Regions from separate parts of the Homo sapiens genome. Here region 1 is linked to region 2. The links come from fine-mapping of genetic effects on gene expression. A gene starts in region 2. The other region holds a variant in brackets. All regions are shown on one strand. Distances are from middle to middle. Region 1 overlaps COX5A (cytochrome c oxidase subunit 5A). Region 2 holds the start of ULK3 (unc-51 like kinase 3).

Region 1 (8,328 bases), 90 kb before region 2:
CTCTCCCCGGCCTAGCCCTTGCCCTACCCTGGTTACTGAACCCGGTGACCGCGGGCCGCCCTGCCCGCCGCCTCGAGTAGTGGAGGACCTGAAAGCGCGCCCCCGGGGCCTCCCCCCGCGCAACTTCCTGGCTGTGCCACCGCGGACAGGTCAGATGTGGACCTGCTGTGGGCGCCGAGGAGGGGACGCAGCGCTCCCCTTCGGTTCCCGGGCCATGACCCTGCCCCAGCGCCGACCCTGCGGCCACCTGACCGAGAGTGGCCGCCGCCGGCCTGCAGCGCCTCGGCGAAGGTGACATTGAGCCTCCGGGCACGCCGCTTGGGGTCCGAGGACACAATATACTTCCGTATGGGACACACGATTATACTTTTCAATCAGGCATTTCTCGGTTAGCGATTAGTGTGTCACCTTCACAGCCTTTTCCATCATTTTTAGGGTCTGCTGTGCCACGTTCTAATTCTTCCACGTTTAAAATAGATGGAAGTGTGTGGTTGTTTCCTGATCTCCGGAAGATAGCCAGAGTTTTGATAGGGCTTATGATAAAAATATCACTCTTTTGAAAACTGAATGTCACAGACACAGGAATACTGGGTTTTACAAGCATAGGAACGCTTCGTGTTTTTTCCCCTTTGTAATAGAAGCCTGATTGCTGGAGTATGAGACGTGCTTCTGATTTTTGTCTATTTTCCTTCCCTTTATATGTGTGCTGGGAGGTTTTGAGTCCACCACCATAGAATAATTACAGTAATTGCACTTCGATCTTGGTCCGTGAAATTTAGCTTCTATGCATGCATATTATATTTTATTTTTGAACCTGCATCACTGGCAACTATGCATGCGTATTTAAACATAAGAACTCAGAAACTCGTTTCAGGGTATGCTGAAGTTAAAAATTAAAAAAAGAACTCAGCCGGGCGCGGTGGCTCATGCCTGTAATCCCAGCACTTTGGTAGGCCGAGGCGGGCGGATCACCTGAGGTCAGGAGTTCAAGACCAGCCTGGCCAACATGGTGAAACCCTGTCTGTACTAAAAATACAAAAAATTTAGCTGGGTGTGGTGGTGGGCGCCTGTAATCCCAGCTACTCGGGAGGCTGAAGCACAAGAATCGCTTGAACCTGAGAGGCGGAGGTTGCAGTGAGCCGAAATCGCGCCATTGCACTCCAGCCTGGCCGACAGAGCGAGACTCCGTCTCAAAAAAAAAAAAAAAAAAAAAAGAATATGTTTTGCTTCATTCATTTTAGACTTTTATCATTTGTCGTAGAACCATAAGGCTGGAGGGTACTTTATTTTTGTTTATTTATTTATTTTTAAATTAGAGACGGAGTGTCCCTATGTTGCCCAGGCTGGGCTTGAACTCCTGGGCTCAGGTGATCCTCCCACCTCAGCCTCCCAAAGTTTGGGATTATAGGCATGAGCCACTGCAGCCAACCTAGAGTGTACTTTAGAGATCGTGGAAGCCATTTTATTTTATAGAAAAGGAAACCAAAGTCCATCTTGGGAAACTGACTCCTTGTTTTTTTTTGTTTGTTTGTTTGTTTTTGTTTTGTTTTGTTTTGTTTTGTTTTTTCTTGAGACAGAGTTTCGTTCTTGTTGCCCAGGCTGGAGTGCAATAGCACGGTCTTGGCTCAAGCGATTCTCCTGCCTCAGCCTCCGGAGTAGCTGGGGTTACAGGCACCTGCCACCATGCCCGGCTACTTTTTGTGTTTTTAGTAGAGATGGGGTTTCACCATGTTGGCCATGCTGGTTTCGAGCTCGTGAGGTCAGGTGATCCGTCTGCCTCAGCCTCCCAAAGTGCTGGGATTACAGGCGTGAGACACCACACCTGGCCGAAACTGACTCCTTTTTAATGGTGGAACCATTTTTGTTTCTTATAGTTATGTTTGGGCCATCCTGATGTTTGTTTAGATTTTGTGTTTTGCTAAAGTAACAGTACAATTTACATTTTTCAGCCGGACACGGTGGCTCACGCCTGTAATCCCAGCACTTTGGGAGGTTGTGGCGGGTAGATTACCTGAGATCAGAAGTTCCAGACCAGCCTGAACATGGCGAAACCCAGTATCTACTAAAAATACAAAAATTAGCCGGGTGTGGTGGCACGCACACGTGGTCCCAGCTTCTTGGGAGGCTGAGGCATTAGAATTGCTTGAACCCGGGAGGCAGAGGTTTGCAGTGAGCCGAAATCATGCCATCTCAAAAAAAAAATTTTTTATTTATTTATTTATTTATTTTTTTTTTTTGGTGATAGTCTCACTGTGTTGCCTAGGCTGGAGTGCAGTGGCACCATCACAGCTCACTGCAGCCTTGACCTCCTGGGACTCAACTGATCCTCCTGCCTCCACCTTCCAAGTAGCTGGGACCACAAGGGTGCGCCACCAGTTTTATTTTCCGTAGAAACAGGCTGGTCTGGGGACTCCTGGGCTCAGGAGTGCCTCCCTCCTCCCACCTTCCAAAGTGCTGGGATTACAGGTGTGAGCCACCATGCCCAGCCAAATTTTTCTTTTTCTTCTTCTGTTGTTGTGGTTTTGTTTTGTTTTTGTTTTTGTTTTTGAGACAGGGTCTCGCTCTGTCATGCAGGCTGCAGTGCAGTTGGCACAGCTCACTGCAGCCTTAACCTCCTGGGCTCAAGCCATCCTTCCACCTCAGCCTCCCAAAGTGCTGGGATTACAAGCGAGAGCCACTGCACCCAGCCTCAGTAACTCGTTAATGTGCCCTCATTCCTACAGTTACCACCACCAAAGTGTTCATTCTTTGGGCCTGTCAGGGTTGATTATTTATTAAATGGAAAACTATCCGATTTAACTAAATTTAAACCCAAAGGATCAATGAGCCCTTTTATTTTTCTATATATGTTAGCCTTTTTTGTTTTTAAATGGAGTGCTTAACTGAATGCCAAAAAGCAGTGTTAGAAATAGCTTTTTAGGATGAAGCCCTAAAAATGTCCTCATTTTTCACAGCTGCTTCTTTTTTCTTACTTTGGGACTTTCAGGTTACGTAAAAGCTCTGAGTAATTGTTTTCCAAAATAATTTGCCTTTCAAGCTTCAATACTAGGTGGAGATCCTGTTCTTAAGTGGGGTGGGGTGTGTGGGGCAGAGAATGCTAGTAGAGTTTACCTAAAAAAAGTTAAGCATGTGGGGGATGTGTCCATAGCTAATAGAATAGATCCTGCTTTACCCATTATTGGATTTAACAATATAATTTAAATCATGGCCGGGCATGGTGGCTCACGCCTGTAATCCCAGCACTTTGGTAGGCTGAGGCGGGCGGATCACAATGTCAGGAGATCGAGACCATCCTGGCTAACGCGGTGAAACCCCGTCTCTACTAAAAATACAAAAAAATTAGCCGGGCGTGGTGGCGAGTGCCTGTAGTCCCAGCTGCTGGGAAGGCTGAGATAGGAGAATGGCGTGAACCTGGGAGGCGGAGCTTGCAGTGAGCTGAGATTGCGCCACTGCACTCCCGCCTGGGCGACAGAGTGAGACTCCATCTCAAAAAAAAAAAAAAAATTTAAATCACGTGGGGAGAGTCTGTTTTAGCCCTTCAGAAAGGGATGTATGGGTTTTTAAATTTTTATTTATTTTAATTTGTTTGATATAGAGTGTTGCTCTATCACCTAGGCTAGAGTGCAGTGGCGCAGTCATAGCTCACTGCAGCCTTGTTGCCCTGGGCTCAAGGGATCCTCCCGCCTCAGCCTCCTGAGTAGCTGGGACCACCAAACCCCGCTAATTTTTTAAGTTTTTTGTGGAGAATGGAGGTCTGTCTTTGTTGCCCAAGCTGGTCTCTCAGTCCTGGCATCAAGCGATCCTGCCTTGGCCTCTCAAAGTTCTAGTTCTGTTTTATAAAAGACTTTTTGGAATACAACCAGTTTGTAATTTGGCTTCCAGAAGACATATGATCAAATCCTTGAAGGTGGTGATCTCCTTGACTTGGATTTGCTGTTGGTGGTCATCTTATTCACAGTTAGGAAACAAAGCCTAGCACTCATGTAGTCAAATCCATGCCCAGCAGTGAACAAAACGAATTGCTTATCATGAAGCACTGTTGTGGATGGGACAGGTAATTACCTCTGGGGAAGGAGTACATAGACCTTTCATTGGGTAAATACTTAGGAGTGGAATTACTGTGTTATATGGTAGGTTTGTGTTTAACTTGATAAGAAACTGCTTAAACCGTCTTCCAAAGTGATTGTATCATTTTATACTTGCACTTTCAGTATTCAGTTAAGGCTAGCTTTAGTTTTTGAAGAGGTGGCTTATAATTTTTTCTTTTTTGAGACAGGGTCTCACTCTGTCTCCGAGGCTAGTGCCACTGCATCTGGCCCTAAGTTCTTGATAATAGTGCATTAGATGGTTGTTCTAATCTATGTTTTTACATAGATAGATAGATAGATAGATAGATAGATAGATAGATAGATAGATATTTTTTTTTTTGAGACGGAGTCTTGCTCTGTCGCCCAGGCTGGAATGCAGTGGCACGATCTTGGCTCACTGCAACCTCCCTGGGTTCAAGCTATTCTCCTCCTTCAGCATTCCAAGTAGCTGGGACTACAGGGGTGTGCCACCACGCCTGGCTAATTTTTTGTATTTTAGTAGAGACAGGGTTTCACCATGTTGGCCAGGCTGGTCTTGAACTCCTGGCCTCAAGTGATCTGCCTGCCTCAGCCTCCCAAAGTGCTGGGATTACAGGTGTGAGCCACCGCACCTGGCCTTGTTTTCTGATATATTAAATTTGAATATTAGTCTTGTAAGACTTATTAAATATCCACGTAGTTTTGATTAAATGTTCATACTTACCAGACATATTTAGGTGTAGAGATCCATTTTTTTCTTGTTGTAGAAATTAAGGCTGGGCACCGTGGCTCATGCCTGTTATCCCAGCACTTTGGGAGGCCGAGGCAGGCAGATCATGAGGTCAAGAGTTCGAGACCAGCCTGACTAACATGGTGAAACTTTGTGTCTACTAAAGATACAAAAAATTAGCCTGACATGGTGGC[G/A]CATGCCTGTAATCCCAGCTACTTGGGAGGCTAAGGCAGGAGAATCACTTGAACCCGGGAGGTGGAGGTTGCAGTGAGCCGAAATCGTGCCATTGCACTCCAGCCTGGGCGACAGGGTGAGACTCTGTCTCAAAAAAAAAAAAAAAGAAATTAAAACGTGTTCACTTCTAGTCCATTTATGTACATGTTCCACTTCATTCTGGGCTTGGATTATGTAGGTAATTTAGGTCTCTGGGAAGATCTTTTCTGCTTCGTTTTTTTGCTACTCTTCCTCCTGCCAGTTACTGCATTAAAGATATATAGGATATTACTAATGTTTAAATTTCAGTGTTCTTAGAACAACAATGTTGAGAGGTTTCTGGGTGAAGTTTTTAAAAATATATATATATGTATGTTAAGGCTGGGCATGGTGGCTCACACCTGTAATTCTAGTATTTTGGGAGTGGTAGGATTGCTTGAGGCTAGGAGTTTAAGACCACCCTGGGCAACATATCAAGACCCCCATCTCTAAAAGTAAATAAATAAAAATATGTTAAGCCTTAAACAACTGGAAGTTACACCACACTTATCTAATACAGGTAGTAGGAAATGTGATTTGAGATAGGTTTCATTTCTTTAAGTTATGATTTCTATAAATAGACAACTAAGACGTTTTTAGATAAGGGTTAGTTTATAGCTACCATTTGTTTAATACTTACCAGTGCATAGTGTTAACCTACCTGTTTTCACATTTAATCTTCATAATCTGCTAAGGGGGGTAGCGTCCCCATTTTACAGATAAGGAAAATAAACTTAAGTTAATTTTCCAGGGTCAAACAGAGAGAGCGAAGAGCCTAGAGGTATCTGAGTGCTAGGTTGTGCTGCATTCAATACCCAAAGATAAAATTTTCTGCCTCCGCCTATCCCCCTACCTGTTCCAGAGGCTGTTCAGAAGGAATTCAGATTTCCAAACTCAATTCAGTGTCCATTTGACAAGAAGAAAGAAAAAATGGGGCTGGGTGCAGTGGCTCGCGTCTGTAATCCCAGCACTTTGGGAGGCTGAGGTGGGCAGATCACTGGAGGTCAGGAGTTCGAGACCAGCCTGGGCAATGTGGTGAAATCCCGTCTCTACTCAAAATACAAAACTTAGCCAAGCTTAGTGGCGCTCGCCTGTAGTCTCAGCTACTCAGAAGGCTGAGGCAGGAGAATCACTTGAATCCAGGAGGCAGAGGTTGCAGTGAGCTGAGATTGTTCCACTGCATTTCAGCCTGGGTGACAGAGTGAGACTCGATCTCAAAAAAAAAAAAAAAAAATGGAAATGCTTTTCATACAGTACTCTATGTAAACATCATTTCTTTTTTTCTTTGAGACAGAGTCTTGCTGTGTCGCCCAGGCTGGAGTACAATGGCATCATCTCACCTCACCTCAACCTCCGCCTCCTGGGTTCGAGTGATTCTCCTGCCTCAGTCTCTCGCGTAGCTGAGATTACAGGCGCCCGTCATCACGCCCAGCTAATTTTTGTATTTTTAGTAGAGACGGAGTTTCACAATGTTGATCAGGCTGGTCACAAACTCCTGAACTCAGGTGATCCACCAGTCTCAGCCTCCCAAAGTGCTGGCATTACAGGTGTGAGCCACTGCGCCCAGCCCAAAATATTCCTAGTAAAACAGTATTATTTTGCATTAGGTGTAGATTAGAGTGTACGTTCCCTTAGGGGATTTATCAGAATATTTTGGGAAGGGGCTGTAGTTTGATAAAGCAATTTGTATGTGTAATTTGTCAGGATGTGTAATTTATTTTGGAATATAATAACATGAGAATTTTTTTTTTTTTTTTTTTTTTTTTTTTTTGAGACAGAGTCTCGCTCTGTTGCCCAGGCTGGAGTGCAGTGGCGTGATCTCTGCTCACTGCAAGCTCCGCCTCCTGGGTTCACGCCATTCTCCTGCCTCAGCCTCCCAACTAGGTGGGACCACAGGCGCCCGCCACCACACCTGGCTAATTTTTTGTATTTTTAGTAGAGACGGGGTTTCACCGTGTTAGCCAGGATGGTTTCGATATCCTGACCTGGTGATCTGCCCATCTCGGCCTCCCAAAGTGCTGGGATTACAGGCGTGAGCCACCAAGCCCGGCCCGAGATTTTTTTTTTTTTAATGTGTGAATGAAGTATATAAGTTTATTTAAGAACTTGAATGGTGCCAGGGCTGGTGGCTCACACCTGTAATCCCAGCACTTTGGGAGCCAAGGGAGGAAGGAATGCTTGAGCCCAAAGAATTTGAGGCTGCAGTGAGCTGTGATTGCGCCACTACACTCCAGCCTAGGCAACAACAGAGCGAGAGCCTGTCTCAAAAAAAAGAACTTGAATGGACATTAGTATTGCTCTTAGTTTTTTTTTTTTGTTGCTTTTTTGGTTTTTTTTGTTGTTGTTGTTTATTGTCTTTTTTTTTTTTTTTGAGGCGGAGTCTCGCTCTGTCGCCAGGCTGGAGTGCAGTGGCACAATCTTGGCTCACTGCAACCTCCGCCTCCTGGGTTCAAGCAATTCCCCTGCTTCATCCTCCCGAGTTGCTGGGACTACAGGCACGCGCCACCACACCCAGCTAATTTTTATACTTTTAGTAGAGATGGGGTTTCACCATGTTGGCCAGGATGGCCTTGATCTCTTGACCTCTTGATCCACCCGCCTCAGCCTCCCAAAGTGCTGGGATTACAGGCGTGAGCCACTGCGCCCGGCCTAGTCTTAGTTTTTTAGTTTTTGTTTTTGTTTTTGTTTTTGTTTGTTTGTTTGTTTTTTGAGTTGGAGTCTTGCTCTGTCGCCCAGGCTGGAGTGCAGTGGTGTGATCTCAGCTCACTGCAACCTCCGCCGTCCAGGTTCACGCCATTCTCCTGCCTCAGCCTCCCGAGTAGCTGGGACTACAGCCGCCCGCCACCACACCTGGCTAATTTTTTGTATTTTTAGTAGAGACGGGGTTTCACCGTGTTAGCCAGGATGGTCTTGATCTCCTGACCTCGTGATCCGCCTGCCTCGGCCTCCCAAAGTGCTGGGATTACAGGCGTGAGCCACTGCGCCTGGCCTATTCTTAGTTTTTAGAAGTGGGGTGTCGCTGTGTTGCCCAGGCTGGAATGCAATGGCTATCTTATCAGGTTCTGTCATATTGTTAGCACCCTACGACCTTGAACTCCTGGGCTCGGGTAATCTTCCTGCCTCAGCCTCTGAGTAGCTGGCACTACAGGTGTGTGCCCCACTATGCCCACCTGGGACATTTTTACTTAGGAATTAATACTCTGGTTATGTGTAAAAATTCAAACAATATGGAAGTATATAAAGTAGTTTTTACGTCCCATGATAATCACTGTTAATTTA
Region 2 (8,328 bases):
TGCACCACTGGACACCAGCCTGGGTGACAGAGTGAGATCCTGTATCAAAAAAAAAAAAAAAAGACACTATCTTCCCTTGCTCTCCACTTTCCAGGGTATTGTGGGTGAACTTGGCTTGACTCTTTAGGCTACCATGACAGTGTCCTGCACTGGATTGCAGCCTCTTCCTTTTCTCCTGCCACACCCTCCTGAAAGCTGATGGATGCCCAGGCCTTTGCAGACTCTGAGCTGCAACTTTTTCCAGATGCCTTGTAACTTAAGGAGACGGTTCCCTCACCTCCCCTGGACAGGCTTCTTCTGGCTGCCCTCTTTGAGCATACGGCTGGTTTGAGTTTCCAGGGTACCTCAGTCCTCAGCTCAAAATTAATCTCAAAAGAAAAGCTGATGGCTGATGTTTTCCTTTCTGCCCCAGTGCACAGGGAGCATTGCAGAAAGGTCAGACTGGCACTTGGCTGACAGCCTGAGCCTGGAAGGGCGGTGCTATTTTGGTCCCCTCCCTCTGGCAGAGCTGGCAAGTCCAGAGCAGTGGGGAGAGAAAGGTTGCCTCCCCTTGCCCTCCAAACAAGTGCACGCTGCCCTCCCACCACCCCTCATGCTTCTTGCCCTGCTGTTGTTAATCTGGTCCCTTTTGACCAGTGACCCAATTTCATTACTCCTTACCTAAGTAAGACCCTGGTAGAAAAGCTGTGATTCATGACTGCCGTTTGCACCTGTACTGGGAATCAGAAGGCTTGAGTTGGCTGGGTGCGGTGGCTCATGCCTGTAATCCCAGCACTTTGGGAGGCCAAGGCGGGTGGATCACCTGAGGTCAGGAAGGAGTTTGAGACCAGCCTGGCCAACATGGCAAAACCTTGTTTCTAGAGAGTACAAAAATTGGCCAGGCGCATTGGTAGGTGCCTATAATCCCAGCTACTTGGGAGGCTGAGGCAGAAGAATCACTTGAACCCGGGAGGTGGAGGTTGCAGTGAGCCGGGATCACACCACTGTTCTCCAGCCTGGGCTACAGAGCAAGACTCAATCTCAAAAAAAAAAAAAAAAAAAAAAATTAACTGACAATAGGTGTATGGGTTTATTTCTGGAATCTCAGTTCTATTCCATTGATCTATTGATCTATATGTCTATGTTTATGCCAGTCCTACACTATTTTAGTGACTGTAGCTTTGTAGTAAGTTTTGATGTCAAGAAATATGAGGATATCCCTTTTACAGATGAGGACATGGGGCTCAGACAGGTGACAGCAAGTTGGCCAGTGATCCTCCTTCACAGAAGGTGGGTCCTCAGGAGTGAGCAGCCACGCTTTCCATACTCCCCACCCCCAAAGCAGCAGAAAAAGGCCCGGCCCAGTGCTACCTTTTTAATTAATTATTTTTTGAGATGGAGTCTCTGTTGCCCAGACTGGAGTGCAGTGCCGCGATCTCTGCTCACTGCAAGCTCCGCCTCCCAGGTTCACGCCATTCTCCTGCCTCAGCCTCCCGAGTAACTGGGACTATGTAGGTGCCTGCCACCATGCCTGGCTCATTTTTTGTATTTTTAGTAGAGATGGGGTTTCACTGTGTTAGCCAGGATGGTCTCGATCTGCTGACCTCGTGATCCGCCCATCTTGGCCTCCCAAAGTGTTGGGATTACGGGCTTGAGCCACTGTGCCCAGCCCTTTTTCTTTTTTCTTTTCTTTTTTTTTTTTTTTTGGAGACAGGGTCTCACTCTGTTGCTCAGGCTGGAGTGCCGTGGCGTGATCACAGCTCACTGCAGCCTTGAACCTCACGGGCTCAAGTGATCCTCCTACCTCAGCATCCCAAGTAGCTGGGAGCATAGGCATGTATGACCACAGCCAGCTAATTTTTTTTTTTTTTGAGTTGGAGTCTCGCCCTGTCACCTAGGCTGGAGTACAATGGCATGATCTCGGCTCACTGCAGCCTGCACCTTCCAGGTTCAAGTGATTCTCCTGCCTCAGTCTCCCGAGTAGCTGGGATTGCAGGCGTGTGCAACCACGCGCAGCTAATTTTTGTATTTTTAGTAGAGCAAGGTTTCTCCATGTTGGCCAGGCTGGTCTCAAACTCCTGACCTCAAGTGATCTGCCTTCCTTGGCCTCCCAAAGTGCTGGGATTACAGGCACGAACCTGGCCTTTTTTTATTTTTTATGGAGACAGGGCCTCCCTCTGTTGCCCAGGTTGGTCTTGAACTCTTGGGCTCAAGCGATCCTCCTGCCTCAGCCTCCCAAAGTGCTGGGATTACAGGTGAGAGCCATAGCACCCAGCCCGGTGCTACTTCTGACTCTGTGAAGGCAGCAACCACATCCTCCCTTTCAGACCTCACATAACCAGAAGATTCCCCTTGTGAATGGGGTAGTGTGGGCCTGTCAGCCTTCACGGAGGTCTGGCCTCACAGGCCAAGGGCTTCTGGCTCACAGGGCTCCCTGTGCTGTGGGGAGATGCCAAGGTGATGGTCAGGACACAGCAGCCACTTGGAGAAGAGCCCCTTATGCTGACTTTTGGAGCCCACTCCCACTTTGCTCCCTCTGGCCTCTTCTTCCCTTTATAGCGGTTGGATTGCAGCCCTGTCTACACTGGATAATCATTCCCTGGCCATATCAGTCATCATGATGGTGGTGGCTGGCTTCTTCACCCTCTGTGCCGTGCTCTCAGTCTTCCTCCTGCAGCGGGTGAGTGGTGTGGGCAGGGCTGACAGCAAATGGGAGGAGGCAGGCAACCGTTTCCTGCCCTTGCCACGAGATGTTTTTCACCACTGCAGTTGGGCATCCTAGGCCCCCAAAGGTCCAGTACCTTTCTCCAGGGATCTGGGTGGGGGGTCAGGCAGTGCCAGGCTTCTGGTGACCCCTTTGGGAGTATAACCTGGATGGCTGGCTTCCTGGTGGGCCCAAAGGACAGGCTTCTCTCACCCCACCCCTCTTCGCCAGGTGCACTCCCTCTACCGACGGACAGGGGCCAGCTTCCAGCAGGCCCAGGAGGAGTTTTCCCAGGGCATCTTCAGCAGCAGAACCTTCCACAGAGCTGCTTCATCTGCTGCCCAAGGAGCCTTCCAGGGGAATTAGTCCTCCTCTCTTCTCTCCCCCTCAGCCTTTCTCTCGCCTGCCTTCTGAGCTGCACTTTCCGTGGGTGCCTTATGTGGTGGTGGTTGTGCCCAGCACAGACCTGGCAGGGTTCTTGCCGTGGCTCTTCCTCCTCCCTCAGCGACCAGCTCTCCCTGGAACGGGAGGGACAGGGAATTTTTTCCCCCTCTATGTACAAAAAAAAACAAAGCTCTCTTTCCTTCTCTGGTGATGGTTTGGTAGGATTCTTTTGTCTCTGGAAGCAGTGGGACTGAAGTTCTCTTCGTCCTGTGCACACACAGACACCCCCACACAGTTGGGATCACAGGCTGACCTGGGCCCATCCCAGCTGGAGCTTTCTGCCAGGGTCCTGGGCCTTGACTCCCCCACCCTGCAGGCCTGGCCTGAATCTGGCTTCTTAGACACAGCCCAGTCCTTCCTGCCTGGGCTGGGAATAAGCCTCTCACAGGTTCTGGTGGACAGATCTGTTCCCCAGGTCACTCCAGTGGTCTCCAGGCTTCCAGAGAAGGCTGGTTGCCTCAAGCTCTTCTCTGCCTCATAAACGGATCCAGAGAAGGCTGGTTGCCTTAAGCTCTTCCCTGCCTCGTGTTCCTGAGAAACGGATTAATAGCCCTTTATCCCCCTGCACCCTCCTGCAGGGGATGGCACTTTGAGCCCTCTGGAGCCCTCCCCTTGCTGAGCCTTACTCTCTTCAGACTTTCTGAATGTACAATGCCGTTGGTTGGGATTTGGGGACTGGAAGGGACCAAGGACACTGACCCCAAGCTGTCCTGCCTAGCGTCCAGCGTCTTCTAGGAGGGTGGGGTCTGCCTGTCCTGGTGTGGTTGGTTTGGCCCTGTTTGCTGTGACTACCCCCCCCCCTCCCCGAACCGAGGGACGGCTGCCTTTGTCTCTGCCTCAGATGCCACCTGCCCCGCCCATGCTCCCCATCAGCAGCATCCAGACTTTCAGGAAGGGCAGGGCCAGCCAGTCCAGAACCGCATCCCTCAGCAGGGACTGATAAGCCATCTCTCGGAGGGCCCCCTAATACCCAGTGGAGTCTGGTTCACACCCTGGGGGGTGTGTCACTGTGATGGGACACGTAGGAGTCCACCCTTAAAACCAGCACCCTGTCCCTCGAGGCTGCCGAGTGGGTGTGTGGACTGGGGTGCCTTCCCACAAAACTAGCCTCCGGCTCTGGGCCCGAGACAGCCGCAGGCCCCAGCCACTGAATGATACTGGCAGCGGCTGGGGTTTTATGAACTCCTTTCTGGTATTTTTTCCCCTCTATGTACAAATGTATATGTTACGTCTCAATTTTTGTGCTTAAGTAAAAATAAAAACATTTTCAGACAACACGGGTCCACATGTCTGGTGGACTTGGGAGGACGGGGCAGCCCACAGGATTAGGGGCTGGGCGCCGCTGCTAAGATTGGAGAGCGGGGACAGTTAAGATGCAATAAATAGGTCAAGGCCCTTCCTCAGAAAAGTGAAAAGCAGCTGGGAGGCCTGGGAAGCCAACGCGGCCTCTTCCAAAGGCGCCTTCTCGTGCCAGTAGCTCTCCTTTCAGAGCTGCGGGTCCTGGGGAGGGGCCCTGGGAGCCTCCCGGACGCCGTCGCCCCCACACACGCCCGCTCCGCCGCCCGCGCCCTCACGTGGGCGATCTCTAGACGCCTCTGCGCCCGCTAGGAGTCCCCGGAGACCACGCCGGCCGTCCTCCGTTGTTAACTTCTAGGCTCGCGGGGCCTCCGTATCCCCACGTGGGCCCTGCAGGAACTGGCGGGGCGCGTGACCCGGCGAGGCCCAGAGACAGGGGAGGGGCGCCGGGAGCCGGGCGGATCCGCGTCCCCGATGCGCGCTGCATTTCCGGCGGGCGGCGCTGGGGGCAGCGTGGAGCCACCCAGTGCTCGGCCCGCCCCGCAACCCGCCGGAACCGCCGCCCGCAGCGAGGAAGCGCCCGCGCGGGCGCAGGCGGCCGGAATGGCGGGGCCCGGCTGGGGTCCCCCGCGCCTGGACGGCTTCATCCTCACCGAGCGCCTGGGCAGCGGCACGTACGCCACGGTGTACAAGGCCTACGCCAAGGTGGGTGCCGGCCGATGGCCCCGTGCCCGCCCGAGCTAGCTCGGCTGGTGCCGGCCGGGGAGACTCTGAGAGGTTAGCGACAGTGTGGGAATAGTTAGGGGCGGGAGGCCGGCCTCGCCCCAGCTGACCCTCGGCGGAGGTTGGAGCCGACTGCCACGCTTAGGTCTTAAAGAGCGCACCTGCACCCACCTGCAGGGTCAGTGGCTGAAGAACAGGCTCAAAACAGGTTACCTGGTGGGCTGGGAGGAGTCTGGGACTGGAGCCAGTTGGGAGGCAGAGTGGGCGGTTCTAGAACCCTGAGTGACATGCCTCTGCCGGGAGCACTCCAGAATGCAAAGAAATGGATCAGCTAGCCGAGGGTTGGAGAAGACCAGGCTGAGGCTGTGTCGGGAAGCCAGGATTCCAGAATCAGCATTCCTCACTGGCCTCACAAGGGAAAGCTGGGAAGCCCGGTGCTGGTGTGCAGTAGGTAGACCCGGGGAGGGGCGGGGTGGGGGAACAGAGGGAACCAGATAGAGCCTTTCCAGTCAGACAAGGGTCCTGGCCCCCTCAAGGCAGAGTCCCCAAATCTCCTGTCTCGCAGAAGGACACTCGTGAAGTGGTAGCCATAAAGTGTGTAGCCAAGAAAAGTCTGAACAAGGCATCGGTGGAGAACCTCCTCACGGAGATTGAGATCCTCAAGGGCATTCGACATCCCCACATTGTGCAGCTGAAAGACTTTCAGGTGTGAGCCTGGGGCGGGGCCGCTGCCAAAGGGAGCTGGAGAAGGGACACTCTCTTCAGGCCGCCTCTCTGCCTCTAAACACAGTGGGACAGTGACAATATCTACCTCATCATGGAGTTTTGCGCAGGGGGCGACCTGTCTCGCTTCATCCATACCCGCAGGATTCTGCCTGAGAAGGTGGCGCGTGTCTTCATGCAGCAATTAGGTAAAGGCCTGTGACACCAGCCTGACACTCTGTCCCTTGTTCTCTGCCCCCCACCATCCCACCCCTCCCCCAGGCTTAGAGCCTTGGCACGCATTGCAGCTGCCTCCTGCACAGCCTGAAATTTTATGGTCCTGTTTATCTCATACACTCAACCCTTGCTCAAGGACGCTGTGGGAGAGATGAGGGGGTAACCCCTCTGTGGGGTGTTCAGGCTTCCATACATAGAACATAATATAAGGACCTTGTAGAACATTCCAGAGTCCTGTAGGTAGGACTCAAGTGCTGTGCCAAGGAAAAGAGCAGGATCTCAAGGGCTGGGGCATCCAGAGAAGCTTCTGAGAGGTGGGGAGACTTGTGAAGGGGCAGAGGGAAGGAGGGTGGGCACTCGGGTGGGGTGGCAAACTCCTAGAAGTGGTGTGATCTTGGTGCTTATATGGAAAACATTAGACCAGCCAGGCAGGAACTGGGGTTGTGCAGGCTTGAGGAGGCAGATGTGAGCCGGGGAGGCGAGAGGCAGGCGGGAATGGGCTCTGAACTGTCTCTCTTCGTGGGTCCTGCTCCTCAGCTAGCGCCCTGCAATTCCTGCATGAACGGAATATCTCTCACCTGGATCTGAAGCCACAGAACATTCTACTGAGCTCCTTGGAGAAGCCCCACCTAAAACTGGCAGGTCTGTGTCTGAAACAGCAGGGATGAGGTTTGGAGAGTGCAGAGGCCTCCCTCTGCCTGGGCTCACTCAGCAGCCCTGGTTCTTATGGAGCCCTCTATAGAGTCCTCAAAGAGTGACAGGCCGTGAAGTCTGGGGTTGGGCCCTGTCATCAAAAGGTGGAAGCTTTCTCAGGCTACCCATGCTCAAGTCCAGCAGCATAATGGGTGGAGTTAGGGCTCAGTCTGTGGCCAGAGTTGGGACTCACTGTGTGTCCAGGTTTAGGGGTCAATCTGGGAACAGTGCCAGGGTTCAGCGTGTGACAAGCATCAGGGATCCCTCTGTGGGCAGGGACAGGACTTGGTCTGTCATCAGAATTGGGGCTCAAGTCTGTGACTCCATCTGTGGCCACATAGGAGGGGTGTGGTGGGGGAGTAGGAGGTGGTGACCCTTGATAAGATTTGGATAATTGACACTGGAGGCCAGAGACTGTGATAGAACCTAAGCCTGGGGGGACAGTGAGAGGGTGGGGGCTTATGCAGGTAGCTGGTGTGATCAGGTGGGCTTCCTAGGAAAAGGTGCCCAAGGGAGCTGGGAAGGATGGGTAGGTTTTATACCCCAGAGGCAGATATAGGAGGGTGTTCCAGCCTAATGATGAGCAGAGGCTTGGAAATAGGGTTGATCCTGGCGGGTCTGGAGGGTGGAGAGGAGCCTGGGGTGAGGCTTTACAAGTCAGGAGCTGAAGCAGCTGGAATTCAAGCCCTGCTGCCTCTCCTCTTGCCTGCAGACTTTGGTTTCGCACAACACATGTCCCCGTGGGATGAGAAGCACGTGCTCCGTGGCTCCCCCCTCTACATGGCCCCCGAGATGGTGTGCCAGCGGCAGTATGACGCCCGCGTGGACCTCTGGTCCATGGGGGTCATCCTGTATGGTGAGACCTCTTTTCCCTGCTTCTCACCCTGAGGCCTACAGTTTCCTCAGGCAAGGCCTCTCTGGGCCACTTCTGAAGGGTTCTGATGAAAACTGACTGCTGGCCCAGGGCCCCTGCTGAGGGGCGTCAGGCCAGGCTTGACCCATTCCCTCCCAGCCTCCGCTCTGCCTCCCTTCCACAGAAGCCCTCTTCGGGCAGCCCCCCTTTGCCTCCAGGTCGTTCTCGGAGCTGGAAGAGAAGATCCGTAGCAACCGGGTCATCGAGGTGTGTCTAGCAGGGCCTTAGCGACCACTGGGGGGCAGAGGGAGTCAGGGCCCTGAGGGTTTAGACCTCGTTCTGACCTGCAGAGACTGGAGTATGGGCTCCAGGCTGCCTTTGTGGTGGAGGGGCAGGTTCTAGGCTGGAAGTCGAGGTGCCAGGCTGTCCCAGGGCCTCAGGTCAGCCCACAGCTGGCAGCACAGTGCCCATTTTGCAGGCCCTTGTGGGGAGAATGCAAAGCAGAGCCAGGCCCAGCCTTCCTAGGAGCATAGTCCAGGGAGGGAAATAAGGACCCAGAAACACGATTCTAGCTCAGCTCAGGGCTCCAGCGAGGGTGCACCGGGAGCCCAGGGATGGAGGCCTCGCTCCCCGCTGGCTCCATCATCCTGACCCATCCTGTTCCTCCTCGGTCTCAGATTCCCCACCTGTCCAACGC

What was found.
Region 1: its variant is fine-mapped to the expression of ULK3 in whole blood (TOPMed, PIP 0.98).

Annotation. Positions count from the first base shown.
Region 1 is chr15:74,929,509-74,937,836 of GRCh38, reverse strand. All of the region lies in intron 1 of COX5A (cytochrome c oxidase subunit 5A), which reads left to right. Among named protein-coding and RNA genes, the nearest start is that of COX5A, 4.4 kb to the left of the region's middle. RefSeq lists a silencer at 1-70. The variant G/A (reference allele first, on the strand shown) is at 4,992.
Region 2 is chr15:74,839,804-74,848,131 of GRCh38, reverse strand. ULK3 (unc-51 like kinase 3) reads left to right here and starts at 4,976. Exons shown (of 16, transcript NM_001099436.4): 1 at 4,976-5,128; 2 at 5,712-5,852; 3 at 5,937-6,057; 4 at 6,623-6,727; 5 at 7,491-7,634; 6 at 7,816-7,898. The coding sequence starts at 5,027. SCAMP2 (secretory carrier membrane protein 2) reads left to right here. Exons shown (of 9, transcript NM_005697.5): 8 at 2,539-2,659; 9 at 2,915-4,402. The coding sequence ends at 3,049. MIR6882 (microRNA 6882) reads left to right here and starts at 7,425; the gene lies at 7,425-7,490. RefSeq lists a silencer at 4,495-5,214 and enhancers at 4,477-5,388, 5,457-5,982.